2 separate regions of the Homo sapiens genome follow, and region 1 is linked to region 2. Evidence: fine-mapped expression QTL. A gene starts in region 2. The other region holds a variant in brackets. All regions are shown on one strand. Distances are from middle to middle.

The links. PIP is the estimated chance that this variant, and not a neighbour inherited with it, causes the effect. A credible set is the group of variants that fine-mapping cannot tell apart.
Region 1: its variant is the best candidate, but not a certain one, in a credible set for the expression of MYO3A in aorta (GTEx, PIP 0.72).

Annotation. Positions count from the first base shown.
Region 1 is chr10:25,896,460-25,901,843 of GRCh38, forward strand. LOC124902396 (a long non-coding RNA gene) reads right to left here and starts at 904. Exons shown (of 5, transcript XR_007062091.1): 1 at 662-904. LOC124902397 (a long non-coding RNA gene) reads left to right here. Exons shown (of 2, transcript XR_007062092.1): 2 at 4,811-5,384. RefSeq lists an enhancer at 5,069-5,178. The variant G/A (reference allele first, on the strand shown) is at 3,067.
Region 2 is chr10:25,931,970-25,937,353 of GRCh38, forward strand. MYO3A (myosin IIIA) reads left to right here and starts at 2,260. Exons shown (of 35, transcript NM_017433.5): 1 at 2,260-2,359; 2 at 3,775-3,861. LOC101929073 (a long non-coding RNA gene) reads right to left here and starts at 1,741. Exons shown (of 4, transcript NR_120650.1): 1 at 1,585-1,741; 2 at 339-392.

The DNA.
Region 1 (5,384 bases), 36 kb before region 2:
AAGCACCAATGACCTAGTAGCCTCATCTAGCTTTGTGATTCGTTATCATGCAACATCAATGTTTCCATTGTCGATCTGCTGTTTCAGATAACAATGCCGTCTGGACACTTGCCTGCTGGCCATTTAAGAGATTAGGGGCTTTTTTTTTCCCTCCTTAGTCTACCACTGTGTTCATTCCCAGCTATACAGTTACCATTTGTAAATCAGTGAAGCAAGAAATTAAGGACACACTAGCAGCCCTGCCTGTGGAATACCAATAAAGACAAAGGTGTAGAGTTGCTTTGCTGCCTTATTGCTGCCTACCATACACCCAACTAAAACATCACTCCTCCAAATGAGCACAGTTATCTCAGTCACCAGGAGGAATAAATGAGGCACAGTGATAACCAGATTAGGATACAATGAAATAAATTTTCTGGATTTTATAGTATGAAAATGAAAACCTGTTTATTTTCTAATGCTTTGTTTTCATGTTTTTGTGGTTTGATTCTTAGGTTAATTTAGATTTTAATTCTATGCTGTCTGGGGTGGTTCCCTAGCTTTGCTTTGAAGTGCAAATTGTTCTGCACAAATGACACCTGATAATTAGGAAACAAGGGGGTAAGAAAGTTGTTGAAATACAACTGAGCGATTCTCTTTGTATGGAAGAATCAAAATCTACCTTCCTGGTTAGTTACACTCTCCTGCAGATGCTCTGATGAACTGTCTCATCAGTAAGAAGCCACCAGCATGTCTGTATCCTGCCAGTATATTGTGTACAACATATATTCTTCCCTCTTAAAAATCCAGGGCACGCAAAAGAAACAGATTCATACGTAACAACATTTGGGAAATGACACAAAATCCTCAAACTCCAAATAGTTTCCTAGGTCATTGGACCATTCTTCCAAGTGTTCTGGCAGCAGAAAATACTAGTCCATTGACATGTAAGATTTTTTGTGTTGGGAAATTACCCTAACAGACATTATGATGTAATAGAATGCTACAATAATGAAAACTGCATGGCTGTGGCAAAGTAATCAGCAGACAGAATGAACAGCCCTGAAATTTATTTGAAAATAGAATGTACATAGGGAAGGGATGCATTTATTTCATAAATTATATGGGAAATTGGCTAATTACTTGAAACAATAAACAAGAGCTTCAGCTTATAACATGCCCCAATTAAATTCCAAATGAGGAACTAAACATAATAAAGGAAGCCGGTAGAAAACTAGAAGAAAATGTGAAATAAATAATTAGTTTAGTGGGGCAAGGACTTTCTGATATAAACATAATGGAAGACACTATAAATGTTTAAATGATGACAGGTTTACATAAACCAGTATCCACTAAAAGAAACTAGGACTCTTTGGAAAAATGGCAGATTCGAGGGCTGGGGTAAGAAAGTACAAGATGGGTCTAGAACATCTCATTGTGCCAGAAAATAAGAGCTTAAAGAATATGAAGATACGTCCAAATGATATAGGAACTTCCACTGGCCAAGTCTGGGATTATTTGAACATAAATATAAATGATAATAATAGATTATACCCTATCGAATCAATTAGGTATCCATGAGTCTATATTGATATAAATTAATAATGAATAATTAAAATTTTGAGGGAAAGTAGGATAATGTAGTGATATAGGAGTTAAGAAGAAATTATTTAGGCAGATAGTGAGGGTAAGACAGCCCACAGTACTGCTTTCTTTTTAATAAAAAGCAGCCTCCAAATCATTTCTTTTCTATCAAAAAAAAGCAGCCTGCAAAATAGAGCTGCAAGCATAGATAAGCAAGCTCGAAGCTTGCACAGGTGAATGCTGGCAGCTGTGCGAACAGGGAAAGGCTACCTGGGGGCCAGGCATGTGTAACATGGCGGCTCCATCTTCCCTTTCTTTCGTCAACCACGTGTACAATAAGGAACAGACAACATGGCCCTGGACAGGTAGAGAACTGATCTGCAAAATAAAAGATTAGGGTGGGGTGGCCAGCTTCTTCACGTGCTATGTAAATGGCACATCTGGTCCAACCAATCTTTGGACCCTGTGTAAATCAGACACAGCCTCCTCAAGCTAGTCTATAAAACCTCCACCCTTCCCTCTCCCGCAAGCGATTCTGTTTTTCTTTCAGCTATTAAACCTCTACTCTTTTTCTTTTTCTTTTTTTTTTGAGACAGAATCTTGCTCTGTTGCCCAGGCTGGAGTGCAGTGGCTCCTCTCTTAAACTCACTTCTTGTGTGTCTGAGTCCTCGATTTCCCTGGCCTGAGATGACAAACCTGGGGTATTTACCCCAGATAAAGACGAATGATGCTGCTTCAGTAGGATAACACAGCTTCAAAATCCTTTCCTTCAAAACACCGTTACTGAACCAAACTTAGGTCTGCCCACCCAATGAAACAAAGCCAAACGCTAATATCAGGATTTGCAGCAAGAGAAAAGTGAGGCATTTATTGCAGGGCGCTCATGCTTAAGACCTGAACTCCCCAATGAGTTACATGTAAGGGTTTTTAAAGGCAGTGAGGCAGGGGTTCCAGGCAAACTCATAAATCTATACATGGAGGTTATATATTGATTCGACTTAAAAAAAAAGAAAAACGGACATTTTGAAGCGGGGGCCTACAGGTCCTGGGTGGATTCAAAGATTTTCTGACTTGTGATTGGTTAAGGACAAAAAGATTTGTCTAAAAATTTGAGGTCAGCAGAAAATAATGTTAGCTGTGGCCCGTGGGTTTTACCCCCTCCAGGCCCCTCAGGAAGAAATTTAGAAGAAAGAAAGGTGGTCACAGTTCAATCCTCGGTTCCCTCTATGTGCCAGTGGATGGCATTTTCCATCTCATGGGAAATGGGGTTTCTGAAAAACAACTCGGGGATATATGTTAAGCTGTTATCTTTTGTTTCTATAGGAAACCAAACATCTTGTGACTCTAACTTCCTTGTCTGTTGTTTTAAGCTACTATTACCTTCTTGCTTATCAAATTGCTCATTTACTTCTCCAGGCTAGCTAGGTGCCTGGAATTTCCTTTGAAATAACTCAAGATTTCCCTTTCTTTCCATGCTTGTGGGGGATGGGGCGTTGGGCTGGC[G/A]GGCCCCTGAGAGGCATCACTCCTCCATCTCAATACTATACTCACTAAAGACAAAAGGGAAAAGATAAACTTTACAGTGAAGGATCCTGACAGATATCACCTTAATCAAATGTTTAATGTGCCAATCACTAGTAATAGGACAAATCTAGGTAGTGTTCTGCCTGGTAAGAGATGATGAGAAGACTAGAGCCTGCCCTCTGTGATATCCCTGACAAAGGTGCATAACCTGAATTTAATCATGAGGAAACCTCAAAGAAACTCATGAAGGACATCCCAAAAAATAATTGATGTGTAATCTTCAAAAGTACCAAGGCTGTGAAAATCAAGGAAATACTGAGGAACTGCTCTAGATTTGTGGACACCAAAGAGACGTGACAATAATATGTAATGCGATTCTCAATTAATCATTTTACTAAAATACATTGTTGGGACTACTGGTGAAACTGGAATGGGGTCCAAAGATTAGATAACGATGATGTAGCATGTTAACTTCCACCAATTTTCCATGGTGGTATTGTAATTATGTAGAAGAATATCTTTGTTTATAGGAGATGCACTAAAGCATTCAGAGGTGGCGAGGCCTCCTGTAGGCAGCTTAGTCTCAAATGTTTCATGAATAAAAACATTCTTGCAATTCTTTATAAGTTTGAGATTGTTTCAAAATAATAATAACCTTAACCAAAGAACAAGTGTATCTGTTCCAAATTCTCTTTTCCCTTCTGCTAGTTAGGTACATCTAAATATTGTGTTTGTATCATAATATATTTTTGGTATATCTGTTACCACAGTTTAATCTTCCCTTGCACAAATTTAAATGTCAAGCAACAGGGAAATTATTATGCCATAGCCATATCCTAGAATATTATAAATATTTTTAAGTGTTTTTGTTTTGACAAATAGGTAACAACATGGGAAGATTCTCTTGGTGTTCTATTGTTTTAAAATGAGAGTAAAGTAAAATAGTATTTAAAAAATTAATGTGATTCTGAAAATACTTTTACAACCTAAAAGGAAATATGCACTTCAACCAAGGTTATATCTTGGTAGTGTGAATATAGGTGATTCATTTTCATTTTTGTTTTGGCATTATGTCTCAATTTCCTATAATGACCATTCATTTGTAAAAAAAACATTGAAATTGCAATAGCAATTAACATAAAGTGATATGAAGAGGAATAAGAAAAAACTGTTGATTAAAGAATGAAAGAGCACAGGGAACTTCACCTGAAAATATGGTATATGGTATACTGAGTGTTTTGAATTAAAGATCAGACAGACCCACCAAGAACAATGGAGAACAATCCATCTCAACCCCCACACCCCCAAATCCTCTCCCTATCCCAAAGCACAGATAAAGTTGTCTTATCTACCTAAAATCTAGACCTAACAGAGAAGAAAACAATAACCTCAGGTCCTTTCTCTTAAGTTTTCATTTGCTGAACCCATATCACAGGAAGGAAGACTAAAGTCTGACAACAAACCTGGATAAATTTTTGTCACAACCTTTATCCGCTCTGAGGGCCCAACAGACTTTGCCCTAAACCATTGTATGTTCTTCAAGCCCACTGAATTCCCCTAAAAATTATTTACTATCTCCATAAAATGATCCACACTTTTCCCTAAGAAGTAGGGTATGTAAGAGGCTGTATCCCACTGGGACATTAGGCAGTCACTCTGTGATTCTCCCTGTGTACATGGTAGTAATAAATCTGCATGCCTTTTCTCTTATTAATCTTCTTGTTAGTTGATTTTTCAGCAAACCTTCCAAGAGCAAAGGGGACACTTTCCCTTCACCCCTGCAGAAGACGTCTCCGAGGAAGTGAAACATTGGTGGATATATGATAGAAATCATCATGGTAAAGAAAGTATTACAGTAAGACTGAAAACCAACCATTTTGCCCAAGGGACAGACCCTCAGCTGTGACTCTGCACCTGATCTCTGTGGCTTTGCTGAAATGTAGCTTTAACCCTGGAGTACCCTAAAGGTGAGCACCAGCGCGATGGAGAGGTGAGAGCACAGACTTTGGCTGTTGGCCTCAGTTTCTTCCTCTGCAGTTTGGTGTGAAGCTCAGAGATGGTGCATGGAGCCCCCAGAGATAGTAGCTGGCACCTGGAGACCCATGCCCTGCTTGGGCCACACCTCTGCTGGTGCAGGGAAACCTGGGCAACCCGAGGTGGACAGACCAGTTCTACTGGAAGCTGGTCCCCATCACCTGTACTTTTCCCACAAAAGACTCCCTTCCTTATCCCCTTCCTCACTCACCCACAAAAGAACCCTTTCCTTATCCATGACCTGTACTTTACCCACAAGAAACCCC
Region 2 (5,384 bases):
TGTTACTGCACTCCAGACTGGCAACAGAGTGAGACTGACTCCGTCTCAAAGAAAAAAAAAAAAAAAAGTTCTCAATTTTTTTTGTCTTAGAACCTTCCTTTATTTACACTCTTAAAAAGTTTTGAGGACTCCAAAGAACTTTTATGTTATAGCAATTAAAACTGAGAAATTTTAAAAATATATTTCACTACTAAGCTCATTACATGTTAACATGAATAGCATATTTTTAAGTGAAAAATACCTGTATTTTCCAAAACCAAAAAAGTTTAATGGTAAGAATGGCATTATTTTATATTCTTGCACATTTCTTTAATGTCTGGCATAACAGAAGACGTTACCTGTTTCTGCATTCAATCTGTTGTGATATCACATATTATGGAGCCACTGGAAAACTTCATCATAAATTCATTTAAAAAATGGGAGAGAAAAAGGAGTGGAAAAAAGTCTTATTATTAAAGTAATTTTGGTCCTGTGAACCTCCCGAAATGGTTTCAGAGACCGCCCCCTGACCCCCAACAAATTTCCCCTAGACCACACTCTGAGAACCACTGGACTTAGCTCTTCTAGCTTCTGTAGTTTTCATATGAATTCTAGAATATATTTGTCTCTTAATTTGGGAGGTAGTAATTATGTGTTTAACATCTTGTCTTCTAACTTAGGATTCCAGTGTCTTTCCAATTATAAATAGTCTGTCAACAATCCTGCATTTTTAAATTTTTTCCCACTTTTCTCCTATATTTCTCATTTTTTATCATTCTTAGTTATTTCATGTTCTTTCATGCTTCTATTGTGAATGGGATCTATTTTTCTATTGTATTTTAATTGGGTGTTGTTTGTCTCTATTGAGATTGTGACTTTATTTTGCATGTGAGCACTCAGTTGCTCTAATTCTTAAAATCTCCCAGGTATGTCCAAATGGCCATAATTATGTTGAATAATATATTTGCTGTGATCTGTTTTTGATGAGATAACTTCTTGATTTGAAGCTGTTCATATATGTTAGGCTTTTGATTCAATATAATCCCTATTACAAGTCCACTATTCAATTTCTAATTTTTTTTTTTTTTTTTTTCGAGACGGAGTCTCGCTCTATCGCCCAGGCTGGAGTGCAGTGACGTGATCTCGGCTCCGTCACTGCAAACTCTGCCTTCTGGGTTCACGCCATTCACCTGCCTCAGCCTCCCAAGTAGCTGGGACTACAGGGGCCTGCCACCATGCCCGGCTAATTTTTTTGTATTTTTTAGTAGAGACGGGGTTTCACTGTGTTAGCCAGGATGGTCTCGATCTCCTGACCTTGTGATCCGGCCGCCTCGGCCTCCCAAAGTGCTGGGATTACAGGCGTGAGCCACCGCGCCCGGCCCAATTTCTAAATTTTAAAGCTACTTTAAGAGGAAGGGTCTTGAATATACTGAATGACCTTTTGAAACAGATTTTTAACATCACATTTTTTCCTTAAGATATGCATTGATTAGGATTAGATGACCTCTCTTTGGTCTCTTCTATAATTCTCATTTAGATAACATGAACGACAGACCCATTGAGATAATTAACAGAATCAAAGGATGTTTTGGTTGTAGTTCTCACCTGTTCAATGGATGAAGGTATAGCAATACCCAATATGTCCCTAGAGACTGTTCAAGAGAATCTGGCCATCAGGGTCCCCCCAGGTGAGCCCTGTGTGACAGGAGACCACAGAAGGTCTGGAAAGGATTGCAAAGGACCAAGTAGAGGGTTGGTGACTAACGGGCTGCCTCCCGAGGGTAGAAGTTCTTGCCTTTAACTTCAGCCCCAGCCCCAAACTCCTTAGCAGTCTGCAAAAGGGAACTGGACCCTGGGAGCGATCTCATTAGCCACTCACTATCCCTCTTGGACCTGAAACCCATTACATTTTCCGGGTCCGAGACCCTCGTAGTGTGGGGAATTTCCTGGGAGGAAGATACTACGCGGGGCCGGGAGCAGAATTTGCTCCAGGCACTGGGCCAGTCCATGAGGGCTCCAGGATCCAGGGGCCCCACTCCCTTCTCGCCGGGCTCCGGGCCAAGGAAGCGCGGCCGGAGTCCCGGGAAGCCCCTCGGCAGCCAGCCAAGGGCCCTGCGAGGATGTGGATGGCGCGGATGGCGCGGCCTCCACCTGCGGGCAGTGGAGAGAGCGGCGAGAGGAAGAATATTCCCCGCGAGCCGGGATAAGGGGCCCCTTCGGCTCGGTTGACCCAGGTCAGATCCTCCCGCCGACCTTCGGCCCGCCCTCTACAGGCGGCCCAGTTCTTCCCCTGCTCGGCTGCCCCTGCCCGCCCCTCGAGGGAGCGCCCGTAGCCAGCGCCCCCGTAAAGAAATAAGGAGGCGCCCGGCTTCCCGCCCAGGTACGTGTCGGGACAGCGCAGGGGACTGGCTTGGGGCGGCGGTGGGTAGCGGCGCCCGCGCGGCGCTGGAAACGGCCCCGCTTCCTTGGACCCCGGGGCTTGCAGGGCGGGCCCGGGGCTCTCTGAGCGCGAGGCTGCCGCGACCGCCCGCCCGCCCAGGTCAGATCCGGAGGACCTGTGTGTTTGTCGGGGCCTGGGGTGAGAGAGGGGACTCGAGGGGAGAAGTAGAGCGGGAAACCAAGAGGGGGAATGTGAGGCTTGAACGAGCTGGATGGGAGAGCTCGAGGGGAGGAGAGGGATGAACTTGAGGGGGAAACGGGGGCGGGGGTGAACTCGAGGGGGAGCCAGGAGGAGGGAACGGGAAGGGTGAACCTGAGGGGTGGACTTGAGGGAAGATCTTGTGGGTGAACCCGAGGAGGGAACGCGAGGGGATAGTGAGGGGGGATCTCGAGGAGGGAACGTGAGGAATGAACTTGAGGAGGGAACGGGAGGGGTGAACGTGAAGTGGAAACAGGAGGAGGGAACGGGAAGGGTGGCGTAAGGGGTGAAGGAAGATCTTTAGGGGTGAACTTGGGAAGGAAACGTAAGGGGAGGACCTCGAAGAGTAACGAGGGGCGAGAACTGAGGGGGCCCTGCAGGGAGACTGGAGGGAGGAGGCGCCGAGTCTGGCGGGTGTCGCCTCGGAGACCTGTGGCGCGCGCGGGCTTTGCGGCGCCGCCCACAGGTGGCGCTGGGTCGGCCCGTCCCTGAGGGAACTGCGTTCCGGGTGATTTCTCAGAACAAGCAGGTCGGTGGAGCTGGGCTCCCTGCAACCCCAAATGCATCCGTAAAGGAGTTTTAATTTTAAGGAGAAAGAGCAGACAAGAAAAGTATGATCATTATTGAGAAATAGAGAAACCTACCAGGAAAGGATGTCCTTTCAAGTCTGCTCACCAACAGCTCTGTTCTGTTCTCCAAGTAGTTGCTAACTCGCACCTTGCTACTATCCCCCTTCCAGAAAAAAAATTTTATTATTGTTAGAATGGAAATTGGCCATAAGCCTTGAAATGACTGTTGTAATGCCACTGAACCCTACACACTAAGCGTTTTTGAAAACTCAAAAGAATCTTCATTTCTGGTTGTTTCTAGTTTTCTTGGTGAATTAACTAATTGTACAGGTGCACTTAAACCTTCTTAAGCATTTTTATAATTCAGACGGATCTGGTAGCTTGAGAGTTGTTTAATGCCAGCATATGAAATGAGGGGCTTTAAGTTCCTTGTTCATTGTGTAAAAGTGCGAAAACTTAGTTACTGAGGAATAAACTATTTGTCTTGCCCTTCTACCTAGAAGTTTCTAAGTTCAACTTCTGATTATTTTCCCCAGATCCTGAATGTTTACTCCCATAAAGCCATGATCTTTTTGTTTTGGGTTACAGGCCCAGGGCCCCAGTGCAGCCTGGACACAGTATTCAAAGTTTTGGCGTCTGAGCATTGTTATGCGTTATTTTCAAGCTTTGCTAACGGTAGGTGATAAAATTGACAAGTGTTCTGGGTTTGCCAGAACCTAAGTGCCAAGTTTTGACAGATAAATTGGGTGCATGTTATTCGTGCCATATTGATTTTTATTACATTATAAAAGATAATTATTTTAAAATGGGAAAATTTACAGATGCATAAGCTTTCAAAGATAACATGGGCTTTATGAATATATTGATGAGATGTCTAGCATGTGAAAAATTACATTCATTTGTCTTAGTCCTTTAAAATTATTATTTGGGGACGAAAATGCAAACTAAAAGATTCAATTTTGTAATCTTTAATATCAACTTAATATATATGTGTATATATACATATATTAAAATTTGGTCATGTCACATAATTTGATAGCATCATCTTGTCCTTTTTCGACTGCATCTTTATAGCCTAATTTTTTTTTTGCATATATTCTTTGAAAAATAACTTTCTCTGTCAAATCCAAAATATTTGAAGGTCCATTATTTGCTACAAGTGGTTTTGATAAATAAATATTTGGAGGCTGAAATACCCTTTAGAATGTATAGTTCTTTTATATAAATCATATAAAGTTTGTAAAATGTTTATTATGTAAATAATTTTTGCAGTGTTATTTCCAGCTGCGTTTTCTTTTTCTTTTTATAAACAAGGATCCTTTCATTAGTTTTGTCCGGGAATTGATAATTTGAATGATTGTACCTAACAAACAAACTCCCTCCCCCTAGTAATAGGAAACAAATTCAGTTATTCATTAGAGGGTAAATAGAAGATTTCTGATAAGCTTTCAAATTGATACACAGACGATCCCTTACTACTTTGGCGACACATTGGGAGTTAGGAACCTCAAGTTGGGAAGCATTACTCTTTTGAACTAAAATCATCTATCATTGGACACGTAATTTCTACCATGAACTTAAACATTATGACCTTAAAAACTTTCTAATCTTCAGTTTTCTTTTATGAAAATATGGGTTACAGTAATGCTTTTCTAAAGGGCTTCTCCTGATAATTAAGTGACATACTGCATGTAAAACTTTAAGCACAGTAGGTACCTGGAATATGGTAAGCAGTTAAAAAAAATAGCCACTGTTAATATCCATTTTTCCTGATATCTGAGGGTGATTAGACAATGTCGATATGTTTATAGTTATAGATCATGTCTTGATAAAAAATGCAGAACCTCATATAGAAGTCGTATGCGATAGTTTCAAGCCTGAAATTGGCCTTTAGAAATGTTTCTTTGGGTCAGCTCAGTACTTTAAAATAATTGATTTACTTACCGGTATTTTCAAATTAGTAAATTTTGTGTAAGTTCCTGGAGTCCTGGCTTCTCCTGAAAAAAATGGAGGACCAGGCAAGACAGCTCTTGCAACTGCTCATGGCAGAAGCCAGGATGAGTTGCCCACTTTGGGTGGGGTATACATTCTCCACTTTGCCACATTGCTGCCATCCTCTGCCTTTATTTCATCAAGTCCTGCTTCACTCATATATTTTACCTCCCTCACTCCTGCAGACATTTGAGTTTGTGATTTCA